Linked DNA regions of Homo sapiens: regions 1 and 2 are each linked to region 3. Evidence: fine-mapped expression QTL. A gene starts in region 3. Each other region holds a variant in brackets. All regions are shown on one strand. Distances are between the middles of the regions. Region 1 overlaps SNORC (secondary ossification center associated regulator of chondrocyte maturation). Region 2 has its middle 6.4 kb from the start of SNORC. Region 3 holds the start of GIGYF2 (GRB10 interacting GYF protein 2).

Evidence for each region. PIP is the estimated chance that this variant, and not a neighbour inherited with it, causes the effect.
Region 1: its variant is the best candidate, but not a certain one, in a credible set for the expression of GIGYF2 in whole blood (TOPMed, PIP 0.60).
Region 2: its variant is the best candidate, but not a certain one, in a credible set for the expression of GIGYF2 in whole blood (TOPMed, PIP 0.77).

The regions. Positions count from the first base shown.
Region 1 is chr2:232,870,422-232,873,177 of GRCh38, reverse strand. The region is part of intron 1 of SNORC (secondary ossification center associated regulator of chondrocyte maturation); the gene reads right to left. Among named protein-coding and RNA genes, the nearest start is that of SNORC, 1.5 kb to the right of the region's middle. RefSeq lists an enhancer at 219-984. The variant C/G (reference allele first, on the strand shown) is at 1,755.
Region 2 is chr2:232,862,515-232,865,270 of GRCh38, reverse strand. No RefSeq gene overlaps it. Among named protein-coding and RNA genes, the nearest start is that of SNORC, 6.4 kb to the left of the region's middle. The variant G/T (reference allele first, on the strand shown) is at 1,180.
Region 3 is chr2:232,695,861-232,698,616 of GRCh38, reverse strand. GIGYF2 (GRB10 interacting GYF protein 2) reads right to left here and starts at 1,286. Exons shown (of 29, transcript NM_001103146.3): 1 at 1,225-1,286. RefSeq lists enhancers at 88-782, 783-1,479 and silencers at 984-1,313, 1,344-1,433.

The DNA.
Region 1 (2,756 bases), 170 kb before region 3:
TCAAGCATCTTGCACAAGGAGGTAACTGTGTGAACACCAGCATCTTCAGCTGCTGCGTCTGGCCTGGGGTGCGCCTTTGGACACAAGCCCAGTTGCTATGGGTCTGCAGCCGCTGGCTGCCACAGGAATCCCTCACAGGCTGGCCCAGTACCCATCTGCACCCAAGCGGCCAGGGCCCCAGGAGCCACCAGCTCCCTGCCAACCTAGGCTGGTGCCCAAGTGGCAGACACATAGGCTCGGAATGACAGCCTGCACTCAGCCACCGATCCACCAGGAAAAGGGGTGCCGCTGCCAGGGAGGGGCCGAGGCACTTCTTATCCTCATCTATGTTTCTAGAATTTACTCCAGTAAGAAGGGAAAGCAAAGCTGAGAGGCAATTCCCATCTTCCCCCAAATCCATCCTTCTGGGAAGCTGGGAGCAGAGCAGTTTCCCAGCAGGAGTCCTGTCTGGGGAGGGGGGAGATGGGGCAGGAGCGAAGGTGTGGAGGACGGAACTCACGGCGTGCCAGGCGGACAGTGAATAGGCCAGGGTGACAGAAAGTGAGGTTGGCAAAGAGGTGGGGGCACGGAGGACCCCAAGAAAGTTCCATGGCGGTAATGAGGCCCAGACTCCACTGACCAGAATTAGCCATGTGGTGTGGCTACGCGCTCTGACCCAGGGAAGCAGGGGCTGGTGGCACTGCCACAAGCCTGGGCACCACGGGCTCTCTCCCAGCCCCACTGGCCCCAGCCGCCCTGCCTTTTGGTAAATAAGTGTGTTCTGACCACAGGGCCCTGAGGCCAGGCGCCTCTGCTCACAGACAGCCTTTGTGTGGGCCATGAAGGGCCTTTTCATCCCTGCCCTGGCCTCCTGCCCGCTCAGCCCGGCCTGCTCCCACCTCAGTAGCTGAGGCCACAGGCCCCCAACAGGGAGGGCCTGTGCCTCAGATGGGGCCTGGGCCTCAGCCCACAAGGCCGCTCCTTCCCTTCCTGTCTGCTACAGGACCCCAGCCCACAGAGCCCAGGGCCGTGTACACACCTGTCCAGAGCTCCCAGCCCAGGGGTGGGGTCAAACGCTCTCGCAAGAACAACAGCCAGAACCCCAGAGACTCCGGGGTTGGGAAGGCCTGGTCTGGCCCCTGCGGGGGGCCTGCCTACTCTTGGTAGGACACATGGAGGGAAGTGGGGCAGTGAGGCCAGGTGAGGTCCTGGCTGTCCCCAAGGCATCCTGTGGTGGCAGAGGAAGCCCACCCGCCTACAATGATTAGGGACAGTCTGGCCTGGGAACTCTGGCCGGCAGCCTGGGCCAGGAGGGTCAGCCACACAGGAGTAGGAACCTGGGCAGGAGCCACAGGCAGCCCAGGCCCAGCAGGCAGGAGCCAGGGCCTCCCCTTCGGCCCACACGGACCACCAGGCTGGAGAAGCAGCTTCTTCCCAGTGAGGGGGCTGCAAAGATCACAGCCCCAGGATCCAAGCCATGGAAGATGCCACCTTCCCCTTTAAGTCCCTTCCCCCCATCCTGGGAACACCGCATGGCTCGCCTAGGCTGGCGCCTCTTCCACCACAAGGGAGGCTGGCGCCCTCCCAGCTTGCGGGAGGAAGTAGAGTTCTGTTGAGACCACCCTGTGCCAGGGAGGGGCTCGGACCACAGAATCCACATTCGCGCTAACTGGATGTGGGGCCCATCCCAAAAGCTCCGCACGTCTGAACTCACGAGGCCTCACAGACCCCTGCAAGTGAGGCAGAGCGTGGCTGTGTCACCATCCTACAGATGA[C/G]GAGAAGGCACAGAGAGGTTAAGAAACCGCCCGGTCAAGACTGAGCACACCCTGGCCTCAAGCTTCTTCCTGGGCGTCCAGGGAGAAGCCAATAGTCTCCGGTGCTCCTCGCTGTCACCCAGACCTCCCAGGGTGTGGCCGAGGGGGCCTCCCCAGGCCTGTCGTCCCCCAGAAGCTCTCCCCAGGCCATGCTCTCATGACTGCGGTCCACCTTTCTCACAGATCCACGGGCGCCCTCCAGAAGACCCAGGCTGCAGGGTCCCTGAACCCCGCTACTGTGACACAGAAGCCAGCTGCCCTTTGGTCCAACTCCCGGCCAAAAGGAGCAAAGACCACCTGTAACCCGTCTGCGCCCTTTGTCTCTCAGGCTCTGAAGCCAGCCTGGGCCAGTCTTCCCCTCTCCACAGGGCCCTTGGGAGCCTGCCAGAGGCCTCCCTCTCGTGGGACCCCAGACTCCGCCACTCTGATCTCAGTCCAGAGGTCCACACCGTTTTGCAGAGGGATCTTGGGCCTTGTATTCTCTCCCTCTCTGGAGCCTTTTCCCAGATGGGGACAGTACCTGGGTCCTCATTCTCTAAGGACGTCGCAGAAACCAGCAGGGAAGCTTTTCAAAGTAATCAGCAAGGCTCTGCACTCCTCTGGCCCCTCAGCTGCTTGTCCTGTGCCTGGTGCCCCAGCTGCCTCCCAGACCTGGGAGACTTCAGATTTTAAAGTGCTAGAGCAATACCCATGTCCCCCTCAACAGCAAAACATCCCTGGGCCTGCCCCCCAAGTTGTCCTCCTTCTCCAGAGGCCATTATCCCTCCTGCTAACAATTTCCTGAGACGTCCATCCCACACAGCTGCTGCCAGCCGGCCTCACAAGAGCTCTTCGCAGAATCACCCCAAATAGTCATCCCATCTCCTGTGAGAGGGCTTCCTCCCCAGTGAACGTTGAAGAATCTGGCCCCAAGGTAGTTATCGGCCCTGGGAGGCTAGTGGTGGCTGAGACAAGGGCCTTCAC
Region 2 (2,756 bases), 170 kb before region 3:
TCTGTAGTATTCCTGTCAAAATTGCATAATCACAAGCAAATCATGAGAAAATATCAGACAAATCCAAATGGAGGACATTCTAAAAAACAATTGCCCTCCACTCTAAAAAAAATGTTAAGGTGCAAAAGATTAAGACAGACTGAGGACCTGTTCCAGATTAAAGGAGACTCAAAAACATGACAACTAAACACAAAAAGTGATCATGAATGACATCCGGTGCCTTTTTGCTTTTATTAAAAATATTAGTGGCCTGGGTGCAGTGGCTCATGCCTATAATCCCAACACTTTGGGAGGCCAAGGTGTGAGAACTGCTTGAGGCCAGGAATTCGAGACCAACCTGGGCAACATGGTGAGACTCTGTCCCTACCAAAAATAGTAATAATTAGTTGGGTATGGTGGCATGTGCCCATAGTCCCAACTACTCAAGAGGCTGAGGCGAGGATGGCTGGAGCCCAGGAGTTCAAGGCTGCAATAAGCTATGATCAGGCCACTGCACTCCAGCTTGGGTGACAGATTGAGACCTTGTTTAAAAAAAAAATAATTAGTGGAACCATTGATGAAATATGAATGAAGCTTGGCTATTAACAGTATTGTATTGTTAATTTCCTAATTTTGATAACTGTATTGTGGTATATGGGAGCATGTCCTCATTTTGAGGAAACACACCAGGGTTCAGGAAAAAGGGACATGATGTATGCAACTTAGTCACAAATGGTTTACATTAAAAAAAAACTTATCATGAGATTATAGTTATTGAGAGAAAATAAAGCAGGTATGGTCCAATGTTAACTAAAGAACTTGGGTGAAGGTTATGTGCAAGTCCTTTGTACTGTTCTTGCAACTTAAAGTCAAATTATTTCAAAATAAAAGTAACCCTCCCCACCAAAAATCACAAATTTTCAACTAATTATATATCTAGGCAATTGTCATCAAGGAATGTTAAAACTGCTACATGTAAGAGCAAGAGGACTTTTATAATGGATGAATCAACCTGATAGCAACAGAACTGATGAATTGTGACATCAGTGAAACTGGAACAACCAGACAATACAGTGTGACTGTGATACAGCGGGAAGGACACCATGCCACCAGCAAAGGATTCCTGTGAGGGGTGGGGAAGGGAGAACCTGGTTTTAGTCAAGCCTGTAGATCTAATTCACAGAAAACATGGCGAGGTGG[G/T]GGGGGGATGAAGAAATTGACACCATTAAGACACTTCTTGCTAAATCCAGAGAATGTGGAATGTTCCATCAATAAATGATACAGTTTTTCAACTTTTTCTCTTTTTTGTAGGGAGAACTGTTAAGACTAAAGGAGACTTAAAGCATATCAACCAAATGCAATGAACATTGTTTTGATTTTCAAACTTTGTAAAAAGACACCTTTGAGACAATCTGAGAAAGTCATCTATGGACCTGATGTGTTGTTAATGTGACAAGGCATTGTGGGTTTTTCTTTTTCTAAGATGTCCTCTTTTATCATATATATTAAAATATTTATGAGTGACGTCATATCTAGGATTTGGTTTAAAATATTCTAAGAGAACAAAGTGGGATAAATACAACAAAATGGGCAAAATGTCAATAATTGTTGAAGCCAGGTTATATTAGGTAGGAGTCTGTTACATTAGTCTACTTCTATGTATGTTTGATTCTTTTTTATTTTTATTTTTATTATTTATTTATTTATTTATTTTAGCTTTCACATTTTCCATCACTCCCTAGAACATTTTCATTAAAAAGAAAAACTGGCCTTGGGAAAAAACTAATTGAAGATGACCACAACCCAGGGACCTCAGGACTGCTAATGACTCAGAGCGCTCACAAATGAAGGTTCAGGCCACCCAACAGATGAGGGGCTGGCAAAGGGGGAGTGGAACTTAGTAAAGGCTTTAAGCCAACACCCTCCACAACCAGGGACAGAAACAAGAACCGTGGCAGCGATGTGCATTTTATTCCTTCTTATATATACATACACGTTTGCAGATACGAACCAACTTTTCTCTACTTTCCCCTACTAATTTACATAAATACAATGTATTCCTTAAGATATCTAATAGTTAGGTGAGACTGAACTTGAAGTTAGTATCACCTAAAAATGGACTTAACAACTGATAGATGGGACGAGGGGACACAGTGTTAGTGGTTTCCCTACAGTTATTAACTAACCTTTCAGTAACTTTCCCCCATGTTGCTCCCAACACTTCAAACACCAATTCTTTTTCTTTTTCACGTTCATCTAGGGTGGTTTCTGTTTCACAACAGGACCCCGACCTGCTTAAGGCTCCATTTCATGTTACCAAAGTCAGAAAATCCAGGCAGATGACTGTCCCCCTAAGCAAGGCACACCAAGCTTGCCTTTCAACTTGGGTCTCCTTCAGTAAAGCTGCAAAGAGTTACTCGTCACACACCATCAAGAAGCCAAATGTCAGCAGTTTACTGCAGCACACATGCCTCACACTCACACACATACACTAGGCCGCTGGAGCTGAAATCTCAGAGCTAGGCTAGGCTGGTGGGTCCCCACTGAGGCTGTCCATTAAGAACTCTGGGGAATTTGAAAATAATTTCCAATGCACGGTCCCACCCCAGATTACAGACTCTGGGACATGGAGCTAAGGGATTGATTTTTGTTCCAAGTTCTTTAGGTGATCTGGGCCAACCACCTCATCTAACAGACAATGAAACTGAGGACCAGAGACATGACAGAAAAAACTGGTTAATAATAATGAGGCTAGTACTTACGTGCAGCCTCCTGAA
Region 3 (2,756 bases):
CACGTAAAACCATCAATGAATAAGAGAAAGTATTTGTGTTCTAGGCAAAATGGACAAAATAAGGCCAAAGCTACAAATATTAGAAGGAGCAAAATTAATGTACAGAAAGAATGACAGAATTTTTTTTTCTAATCTAGGAAGTCATTTGATTCTAAAAAGGACATACTATATAAAGAAAGAATACCTTCCCCAGGCACAACATTGGGAATCAAAACTGCCTTAATTCAATGTATGTAGCTCTAGAAAGGAAGCTGTTCACAGCTTCTAGCCCCATACTCAATTTCTTGCAAGTTAAACTGGAATACTTACCTTTCTTACAGAGAGACTACGTGTGTTTAAGTGCTTTGACTTGCAGGAAAACGAAAACAACAAAATAAAAAACACAGTACTAAATAATTAACTGCAAAACAACGTTATTGCTTCCCAAACACGGTCATACGCTCCGCTTCTTTCATGCCCCCATTCCCTGTTCGCTTGATTTATGTTTCAGTCGCAAAACAAGTATTCAGAGTGCTTTTGGAAACTGACACTTAAGGATAATGCCCATTTCAACCTGATGTGAACATTTGGGTCCCCAAGGCTGCCATGGGCTCTAGTTTCCCAGCCTCGGTCCCAAGGTTCCGATCATGGTGGCTGCACCTCGCCTCAGGCCTGGTCCAGACCCAGTACTCTCGCCACGGAAGGAGTCTCCTCCGTCCAGATGCTCTGTGGGGAAGGCAGGAGCGCACCTCCCAGGGACCAGGTGTGGACAGGAGAGCCGGCAGGAGCAGCTGTCTGGCCGCAGCAGCTGTTACCGGGCCACCCCGAGACTGGGCGGGTGTCTGGCGCGGAGAAGCAAGCAGAGGAAGGCGAGCCCTCCAGCTCCGAGCAAGCCGGCCTGACACTGCCCACCCCACAACCCTCCTGCCTTGTTCGGCTCCCCTCGCAATGCCAAGAGGCCCTGGCCTAGGGGCTTCTCGGCTCCTCGCGGCCGTGACGCGCCAGGGCCCTCAGCGCCCCTCGCCCAGGAGGAGGCTCCCTCCGGCCCTGCACCTGACCTGTCCCGTCGCCTGACGGCCCAAGCCGGCCGGAGCGGCCTGTGGGTGTCCATGCGGCCGGGCCAGCTCGGGCAGGAGGAGCAGGGGCGCGAACGCGGACCGGAGACACAGGCGGCCCGGGACGCGGCGGCGGGGCCGGGGCGCGGAGCAGAGCCGGGCAGGGGAGCGACACGGAACGGCTGGTTACCTGCGGTCCGGGACAGGGAGTCTCAGAACCCCAGTCAGTCCTCAGCCTCAACAACACAAGATGGCCGACACGTCGCCACGCACGTCACGTGACCGCGCTCCCGCTCCGCCACGCCCCCTGCTCCGCCCCCGCCCCTTCCCGCTTCCCTCCCCACTCTCCAGTCTCCCACGACATCCTTCCTTTCCGCCACCACCCGCCCCTCTGCCCAGACACGCCCCTGCCCGAGACCCGGATGAAAGGTTGGAAGAGGGCGGGGCCGTGGCAGTGCGCAGGCTCCCGCTGACCCCTTGGCAGCAGCCGGGTACCTGCCCTTGAGTTGAGTGGTGTTGGTGTCCAGGGTTGGGCCCGGACCAGGCACCGTGTGACTCACTGTCCTGTACGCCCAGAGCTCTTTTGCAGTTCAAAAGCCTCTGCATCACTTGCGGGCTGGTTTTCCAAATTAGAACTTTTCCACAGCTTTTAGTCCGGCATTTTTCTTCGCAGTTGCCATCCTAGAGCGAATGGGAAAGCCGCAAAAGCTGAAATTCAAAGCAGTTTCTCTACTTGTTAACAGTTCTGGTAGAACTGGGAATTCATTTCAGAGTGTTGTACTGGGACAGCTGGAAAGGACTTGAGAGCTCTGATTCCTTCCTAGGACATCTGGGGCTATAACCCTTTTACCTAGAGATGAACTATTTTGGAATTGACAGATAAAATACAAGACACCCAGCAATATTTGGGGCACACACTGAAAAATTGTTCGTTGTTTTTCTGAAATTCAAATTTAATTGGGCGTCCTGTGTTTGCTAAATCTAGCAACTCTATCCTTAGGCATCCCATTCTTGCCTGTGTCTCCAACTTCTTCCTTCCTACAGGATCCTTCCTGTCAGCTTTAAAGATTACTTGTGTCTCCCATCTTAAAATGGAATGTTAAAAACTCCAATTCTCATGCCGGGCGCAGTGGCTCACACCTGTAATCTCAGCACTTTGGGAGGCGGAGGTGGGCGGATCACGAGGTCAGGAGATCGAGACCAGACCATCCTGGCTAACACGGTGAAATCCCGTCTCTACTAAAAATACAAAAAAAAATGTAGCCGGGCGTGGTGGCACGCACCTGCAGTCGCAGCTAGTCGGGAGGCTGAGGCAGGAGAATCGCTTGAACTGGGGAGGCAGACGTTGCAGTGAGCCGATATCGCGCCACTGCACTCCAGCCTGGCGACAGAGCAAGACTCCGTCTAAAACAAAAACAAAAACCTCCAATTCTCGGCCGGGCAGTGGCTCACGCCTGTAATCCCAGCACTTTGGGAGGCCGAGGCGGCGGATCACCTGAGGTTGGGAGTTTGAGACCAGCCTGACCAACATGGAGAAACCCCGTCTCTACTAAAAATACAAAATTAGCCGAGCGTGGTGGCGCATGCCTGTAATCCCAGCTACTTGGGTAGCTGAGGCAGGAGAATCGCTTGAACCCGGGATGCTGAGATTGCGGTGAGCCAAGATCGCGCCACTGCACGCCAGCCTGGGCAACAAGAGTGAAAATCCGTCTCGAAAAAAAC